3 separate regions of the Homo sapiens genome follow, and regions 2 and 3 are each linked to region 1. The links come from fine-mapping of genetic effects on gene expression. A gene starts in region 1. Each other region holds a variant in brackets. All regions are shown on one strand. Distances are from middle to middle.

The links.
Region 2: its variant is fine-mapped to the expression of USB1 in whole blood (TOPMed, PIP above 0.99).
Region 3: its variant is fine-mapped to the expression of USB1 in whole blood (TOPMed, PIP above 0.99).

Annotation. Positions count from the first base shown.
Region 1 is chr16:57,999,942-58,002,785 of GRCh38, reverse strand. It overlaps USB1 (U6 snRNA biogenesis phosphodiesterase 1), which reads right to left and starts at 1,379. Exons shown (of 7, transcript NM_024598.4): 1 at 1,205-1,379; 2 at 141-307. The coding sequence starts at 1,302. ZNF319 (zinc finger protein 319) reads left to right here and starts at 2,114. Exons shown (of 2, transcript NM_020807.3): 1 at 2,114-2,844. RefSeq lists enhancers at 1,141-1,240, 1,267-1,561, 1,734-1,903, 2,761-2,844 and silencers at 1,321-1,570, 1,861-2,460, 2,511-2,640.
Region 2 is chr16:57,893,214-57,895,713 of GRCh38, reverse strand. All of the region lies in intron 31 of CNGB1 (cyclic nucleotide gated channel subunit beta 1), which reads left to right. Among named protein-coding and RNA genes, the nearest start is that of CNGB1, 77 kb to the left of the region's middle. The variant C/T (reference allele first, on the strand shown) is at 1,489.
Region 3 is chr16:57,898,072-57,900,571 of GRCh38, reverse strand. All of the region lies in intron 29 of CNGB1 (cyclic nucleotide gated channel subunit beta 1), which reads left to right. Among named protein-coding and RNA genes, the nearest start is that of CNGB1, 72 kb to the left of the region's middle. The variant T/C (reference allele first, on the strand shown) is at 1,522.

The DNA of each region.
Region 1 (2,844 bases):
CTCTGCTAAGTCAATGACTTTCCCACCACCAGTGTTAGAGGTTTCTGGTTTCTTCCTTCTAGTTGGGGCCAGATTCTGCCCTTCATGAGGCACCTACGGGTCTATGGGTCTTGGCAACTTGCCTTTCACACATCACTCACATGGTACATAGACGTGGGTGGCCCAGTTGCCTCGCTCGTGGGGGAAGGTGCGCACCCGTCCCCCGTGTTTTGTGCTGTCATCTTCAGGCCCCTCCTCGGTGCCCGGGAACATGTTCAGCACACTGTCAGGTACTGGAAATCTCTGCCTGGGAAGGGGGCTCTGGCCACTGCAAAAGAAAAAAAGAAAAATGAGTACATTTATCCTGTTAGCATTCTCTACCTTTGTATATACCACAAAAGTTGTAACCCCTTATATATGGTGGCTCTGAGTGTGTGTTTCCAGCCTGGTGCTGGAAGCAGCTTCTAGATAGCGAAATTGTTTCTCCAGTATTGTCTCATTGGGGTCTCCAACTCTGGGGCACAAGGTCCCCATGGGAAACAACAGGGCATGCAACAATGTGGTTCAGGGGTCACATTTCCAAGCTGGACAGGCTGCAGCTGGAGTAGCACTTTCTAGCTCTATGACCTTGGGCAAGTCATGTCCCCTTTCTGGGCCTCAAATGCCTCATCTGAAAGTATATGTCTACCTGATAGAGCAATTGTGGGATCAACTGAGCTACTGCTTGTAAAGCACTCAGCAAAGATAAGGCCTAGCATTTAAGAATCTAAGCCCCAGGAAGTAAGGCCGACGGTTTTGTTCACCACTGAATTACCAGACCCCAGCCTGGCAGGGAGTGGGTGCTCAGTGAATATTTACTGGATGAATGAAAAGGCTCTCCCTACGCTTTAGCAAGTATTACTATCGCAATTGTATTCAAATCAGGAAACGGACCTAGGATGGTACAGGGATGTGTGCCAGGCGATAGAGTGGGCCAGCGCGAGGCTGGACCCGAACCCAGGTCTGGCCTCCCAACTTGGCCCTAGCCAGGTGGGGCCACTCTGGAGCTTTGTCTGGGGTGGGGGGGAGGGGTATATCTTCTGGATCCTCCTTTCTTCCTGCGTCCCCTTTTCCTTCCCAGAGCCGCCCCGCATCCTCCCTCCCCACTCCACCCCCAGACATTCGGGTCCCGTCTGGCTCTAGGGTGAATGCGCGCGCCCTCCGGAGAGACTTCCTCACTCCTCACCGACGGTGGCTCCCATCCCCCGGCCTGGTCCGCATCCCGTCCTCGGACTCATCCTCGGAGCCGCTGCTGCTGTAGCCCACCAGGGGCGCCGCGCTCATGGGGCCTCATCCAAGACCACCAGAGCAGGTCCACCAGCAACCTCAACCGGCACCCGGAGTTCCGCTGTGCCGGAAGCGCCCTCCCAGGGGCGGGGCCTGGGCTGGCACCGCCTCGGGGCGGAGCCGGGAGGGGCGGAACCCGGCAGGACAGTGGTGAAGATTCAGCCCACCGACTCCAAGCTGTCTGCCGGCTGCGCACGCGGATCTGGTCACCTGCAGCCTCCCGGCACCCCGCTGGGACCTCCCCAGCCTTCGTGTACCCATTTCATATATCGCTCAGGGCCCTCACCTTTCTGCCCGCTGCTGTCTGCAGCCACCCGGGACCAGACATACCAGACACGACAGTCCCGGGTCAGCGCACTAGACCCAGCGGAGACCCCTGCCTGCCCCGAGCCCGGCCAGGATCAGAGGTCCTGGAGCCCCCTCCTCAAACCAGCCCAAAGTCCAAGCCCCTAAAAGCCAAGCTGAGCAGTTAGGGGCGGATCAATTGTGGCAGACCAGAGCCTCTAGGAGGCCCCTCCTCTCCTGCGCAGAGCCGGGCCGAGGGCGGTCACCCGGAGCCCCCTCCCCTAAGCCCGAGCGGGGTGGCCGGAAGCAGAGCGCCCTTCCTCGGTTAGTCGAGGCGCCCAGGCCTGGCGACTCGAAAACCGCCCGGAGCACCCGGCTTGTCCGACCTGGCCCGGCCACGGGGTCCCCGGCAGGGGGCGGCCTCGCTCCGCGCCGCCCGCTCCTCCCGCATTGGCCGCCGCCGCCCGGGATGCCGCTCCTCCCCCGGCCCCGCCTCCCTGGCCCCCGCGCCGCCCGCCCGTCCGCCCGTCTCCGCAAGGCCATCGGTCCGTCCGCCCGCCCTCCCGGCGCTCCTCGCCCCGGCCCCGCTACTCCGGCAGCGCGCGTCGCTTCCTCCGTTCCGGCCGCCGCTAGCCCGTCCCCCGCCCCCGGTCCGGCCGCAGCCGCTACGCGAGGCCGGGGATTGGCAGCGCGCGTAGGCCGCGCCGCCGCGGATGGAGCCGGAATAAAGGGGCGGCCGAGAGAGCAGCTGGTCGCCGCTCGCCCCGCGCCTGCCCTGCAGGCGGCCTGGAGCAGGTGAGCGGCGGGGCGCCCGGGGCCGCATCTGGGGGCCACCCCCGCGCCCGCCGCACCCCTTCCTCTGCCGGCCCGGCCGCCCCCCCGCGCCCCTCCGCCGCGACCTAGCGGCCTCTTGAGCTTCTGGGCGGCCCAGGCCGGGCCTCGAGGCGCAGCCGCTTCCTGGGCCCGGCCTGTAGCCCTGGGGCCTTTCTCCAGCCCGGCCGCCCTCGGGGCTCGCCCTCGGGTCGCAGCGGCCGGGCCATCCCGGACGAGGGCTGACAGGACGCAGCCCAGCTGGGCCTGCAGGCAGGGCCGGCGGGAGGTGATCGGCTTTCATTCGGTTTCTCAGGGAGGAAGAAGAGACGGGGTGGGGCGCAGGTGGGGGGCCTCCCCTGCCTCTCCTTGCCTCCTCTCTCCCCTTTGCGGAGTGATCACAGAGGCTTCCTGGCTGCACCTTGCTGCAGGAGGGCCAGGGTG
Region 2 (2,500 bases), 110 kb after region 1:
CTTGATTCCTTTTACTGGGGGATGGTTTTTAGAAACCACGATCTGAGTCCTAGGAGCAGTCATTGCTACTGGAGTGCTACTAGGCCTCTGCAGCAGACAGAACCAAGAAACACACCCACATACACACCAAGATGTATAAGTACAAATATATATATATATATAAAAAATACATATATAATATATTATGTATATATAAAATACATACACACACATATACATGTATATGCCAACTTAAATTTTTCTGTCTATTCTACTGATTATCTATAAAACAATTTCAATCCAGCACCACAGAATTCATTCTTTTTTTTTTTGAGACGGAGTTTCACTCTTGTCACCCAGGCTGGAGTGCAGTGGCGCCATCTCAGCTCACTGCAACCTCTGCTGGAATTACAGGCATGTGCCACCACACCTGGCTAATTTTTGTATTTTCAGCAGAGATGGGGTTTCACCATGTTGGCTAGACTGGTCTCAAACTCCTGACCTCAGGTGATCTGCCTGCCTTGGCTTCCCAGAGTTGCTGGGATTACAGGTGTGAGCCACCGTGCCCTGCCACCACATATTAGAATTCATTCTAATATTCTCCCTTTTCATACTTGTAAATCTCTTCTCCAACACTGAGCAATACAGGGAAGTTCATTTCAGAATTTCCAGCCCATGTCACTGTAAAAACAAAAAGTAAGGCTTCTAGGTAGAGTTCAGTACTGGATGCAGTTCTTTTGTGTTTAGCCCGAGTATATATGATGGAAGTGTTACGTTCAAAGTTATCTGGAGTCGTTCTCTTCCTCCACTACCCTTTAATGTGGTTACTTTATTCATTTGAAATACAGGTAGGTTCACTTGTTTCAGTTTACATTCCATTTAGGGCTCCTGCCACCCTGATCTTTGTTGACTTTTTCTTGTTTTCAGTATGTAGAACATTAACATGTTCCTGAAGGTCAACACTCTGCAAAATGGGGCACTCAGAAAAGCGTCCCAACTCTCCCTGTCCCCATTGCCCCCTGACTGCAACTCCCATTATTACGTGGCTCGTTGCATCAATTTCTGCCTTTTCTTTCCTCTGCTTACTTTTGCGAAAATGGACAAGTCCACAGACATTTTCTTTTTTTCTTTTTTGAGATGAAGTCTCATTCTGTAGCCTGGGCTGGAGTGCAGTGGTTAGGTCTTGGCTCACTGCAACCTCCACCTCCCGGGTTCAGGTGATTCTCCTGCCTCAGCCTCCTGAGTAGCTGGGATTACAGGCATCTGCCACCATTCCCAGCTAATTTTTGTATTTTTAGTAGAGATGGGGCTTTGCCACGTTGGCCAGGCTTGTCTCGAACTTCTCACCTCAGGTGATCTGCCCGCTTCTGCCTCCCAAAATTCTGGGATTACAGGTGTGAGCCACCACACCCAGCCCAAACATTTTCTTATTTCTTCTTCTTTCTTACACAAAATATGGCATGCTGTAGATTCTTGTACTTTGCTTTGTTTCCACATGACGACAAAACC[C/T]GGAAATCATTGTCTATCAGTGCAGAGTCAGCTTCCTCATTCCTTTCCACAGTGGCAGAACATTCCTGTAAATGGACATTTAGGGTATTTCCACAATTTTGCAATTACAAACAGTGGTGCAACGAATAACCGTGTGCATCCGTATTTTGCATTGTTGGGGAACAGGTCATTCTTTTTAGAAAAGCCGGTTTTTGTTTTCAAACCCTTAAGATCAGGTTTCAAATTGAGCGACAGGCAACGTAGTGTGTCAGGAACCCCACAATAGGTCTGGGAGGCTGGCGGGGCTCAGATCCCTTCCATGTGAGGTGCTGGCTGTGTGACTTTGAGGAAGTTGTTTAACTTTTCTGGTCTCAGTTGTCTCCTATGTAAAATAAAGGTCATAACCCCTACTTTGCTGCTGTAAATTTTTTTTGTTTTTTTGAGATGGAGTCTTGCTTTGTCGCCAAGGCTGGAGTGCAGTGGCGCAATCCTGGCTCACTGTAACCTCTGCCTCCTGGGTTCAAACAATTCGATTCTCCTGCCTCAGCCACCCCAATAGCTGGGACTACTGCAGGCACATGCCACCACACCCGGCTAATTTTTGTATTTTAAGTAGAGACGGGGTTTCACCATGTTGACCAGGCTGGTCTGGGACTTCTGACCTCAGGCGATCTGCCCGCCTTGGCCTCCCAAAGTGCTGGGATTACAGGTGTGAGCCACTGTGCCTGGCCTGCTGCTGTGAAAATTAAATAGTGTGCAGGAATGTCTCCGGTGGGGTGCCTGTCATACAAGAGAGCTCAGTGCATGTTAATAAGGATCACTTCAGGCCGGGCGCAATGCTGCATGATTGTAATCCCAGCACTTTAGGAGGCTGAGGCGGGAGGATCATTTCAGCCCAAATATTTAAGGTTACAGTGAGTTATGATCGTGCCACTGCACTCCAGCCTGGGTGACAGAGCAAGACCCTGTCTCTCAGATAAATAAGCAATTGTTCCTCTGTAGCCATCAAATTCACCCTATAATTTTTCAGTTG
Region 3 (2,500 bases), 100 kb after region 1:
GACAATGTCTAGAGCCCTTTCTGCTCCCTGTCCTTGGGGTTCAAGGTGAGACCAAGGTCACTTGGTGAGTGACGGGAGGGGTCAGGAACCCAGGTTTCAGTCCTCTTGCACAGAGCCGTTAATAAGTTAATAATAAACCGTTAATAAGCATACGGGGGGAAACATTACCCAAGCAGGCTCTGCAAGACTTGGGAACCCCCGTCCCCAAGAAAGTCCCTGTCTCCAGGTTATATGCTGTGCAGCAGTGAAATTTCTGGAAGCAGAGAGCCGGGGTGAAGAGGGGAAAAGTATGCTTCAGAGACCTGAGAATTTAAAGCTGCAACCTTAGGGGCAAAGAGGGGTTTGGGAGCAATAGAGTGGCCTGCCTGACACTGGAGCCCCTTCCTGGCTGTGCAGCCTTGGGCAAGTGGCTTGCCCTCTCTGAGTCCTGCTCATCTTATGGATAAAGTGGGGGATGTTGATAGTACCTCCCTCATGGGGTGGTTGTGAGGGCTGAATAAGATGTGCATACAGAGCTTAACATTGTTCCTGGCACACAGCAGCTGCCAGTACTGTTGCTGTTGTCTTCGTGGGTGATGCAGAGTTTGCTTTAAATGAGAAAAAGTGAATCTAGAGTCTGTGATTGCAAATTAAATTGAGCACTTGGTGAGCACGTGTGAAGGGCGCCCTCTGCTGTCTGGTTTTGCTCGGCAGCGATCTCTCTGAGACACCCCGGGGACTGGTTACTGAGGTGAGGGTCCCTTCACCCTTTCACTCTTGTCAAACTAAACAGAAACATGGAGGCAAACCTCTCTACCTTTTTGTTAAGGGGGTCATGCATGTGTGAAATGCACAGGAAATTTTTGTCAAATAAGTCAAAAGTGTGACAGTTACTGTCCTTGGTCACTCCCCCCACCCCTTATTTATTTATTTGTTTGTTTGTTTGTTTATTTGAGACCAAGTCCCACTCTCTCTCCCAGGGTGGAGTGCAGTGGCACTATCTCGGCTCACTGCAACCTCCGCCTCCTGGGTTCAAGCATTTCACCTACCTCAGCCTCCCAAGTAGCTGGGATTACAGGCATATGCCACCATGCCCGGCTCATTTTTTTATTTTTAGTCAAGACAGGGTTTTGCCATGTTGGCTAGGCTGGTCTCGAACTCCTGACCTCAGGTGATGTGCCCGCCTTGGCCTCCCAAAGTACTGGGATTACAGGCATGAGCCACTGCACCCGGCCCCCTTTTTAATTATTATTATTATTATTTTTTTTTTCTGTAGACCTCCTCTTCCCCTTTTAAACACATGTGACTCACAGGTAGCTGGCCAGGACAAGGGCCGGTGAAGGCATGAGGATTGGAAGGCGCATGGCAGACTAGGTGTTTCTAATTGCAGTCCAAAGCAAGCTATTCATTCATGCATGCATTCGGTTTAACTTGGGATTAAGGCCATTGTATTCATTCTCCAGGCTGCCGCGGGACACTGTGCAACTCCACCACAAGCTGGGTGGCTTCTCTCCTCAGCTTGTAGGTGGTCATCTAGTTTTT[T/C]TTGTGTCTCCTCACATCCTCTGGTCTCTATGCCTGTCTTTGTGTCCACATTTCCCTTTTGTTAGGACACCAGTCATATTGGATTAGGTCTAGAAGGACCTCATCTTTAGGAATTACATCTGCAATGACCCTATTCCCAAATAAGGTCACATTCTGAGATGCTGGGGATGAGGATTTCAATATATGAATTTGGGAGGGAGTACATAATTCAACCCATAACAACCATGAACTCTGGAACCAGACTGTCTGGGTTCAGATCCCAGCTCTTGGGCAAAGAGTGATCTCGACTCTGAGGGTTGTTGAGGATAAGTAGTACACTGCATAAAGCAATTTGGGGCTGGGCACAGTGGCTCATGCCTGTAATCCCAGCACTTTGGGAGGCTAAGGCAGGCAGATCACTTGAGGCCAGGAGTTCGAGACCAGCCTGGCCAACGTGGCAAAACCCTGTCTCTACTAAAAATACAAAAATTTGCCGGGCATGGTGGCACATGCTTGTAATCCCAGCTACTCGGGAGGCTGAAGCATGATGCCTGTAATCGCAGCTGTTTGGGAGGCTGAAGCACAAGAATTGCTTGAACCCAGGAGGCAGAGGTTGCAGTGAGCTAAGATCATGCCACTGCACTCCAGCCTGGGCGACAGAGCGAGACTCCATCTCAAAAAAAAAAAGGCAATTTGAATATTATCGTTATTGTTGTTCCCATTCCTGTTGCAGTTAGCAAATTCTTCCCGAGCCCCTGAGATGTGCCAGGTGTAGACATCATTTGATGGTGGGAGCTGCTATCTGATTTGCCCTGCCTCCATCAGTGAGTCTAACTGGAATTTGCAGAATTCCATTATACCTGCACCTCCCAGGTTAGCTGGCACTTCCCATTCCATGACATCACTAACTCCCCCACTGCAACCCTGTCAGTTATGGAGGGCATGGGGTAGTCACTCCTCCAAGTCTACAGATGGGGTGACTGAGGCCTGAGAGGGAAGT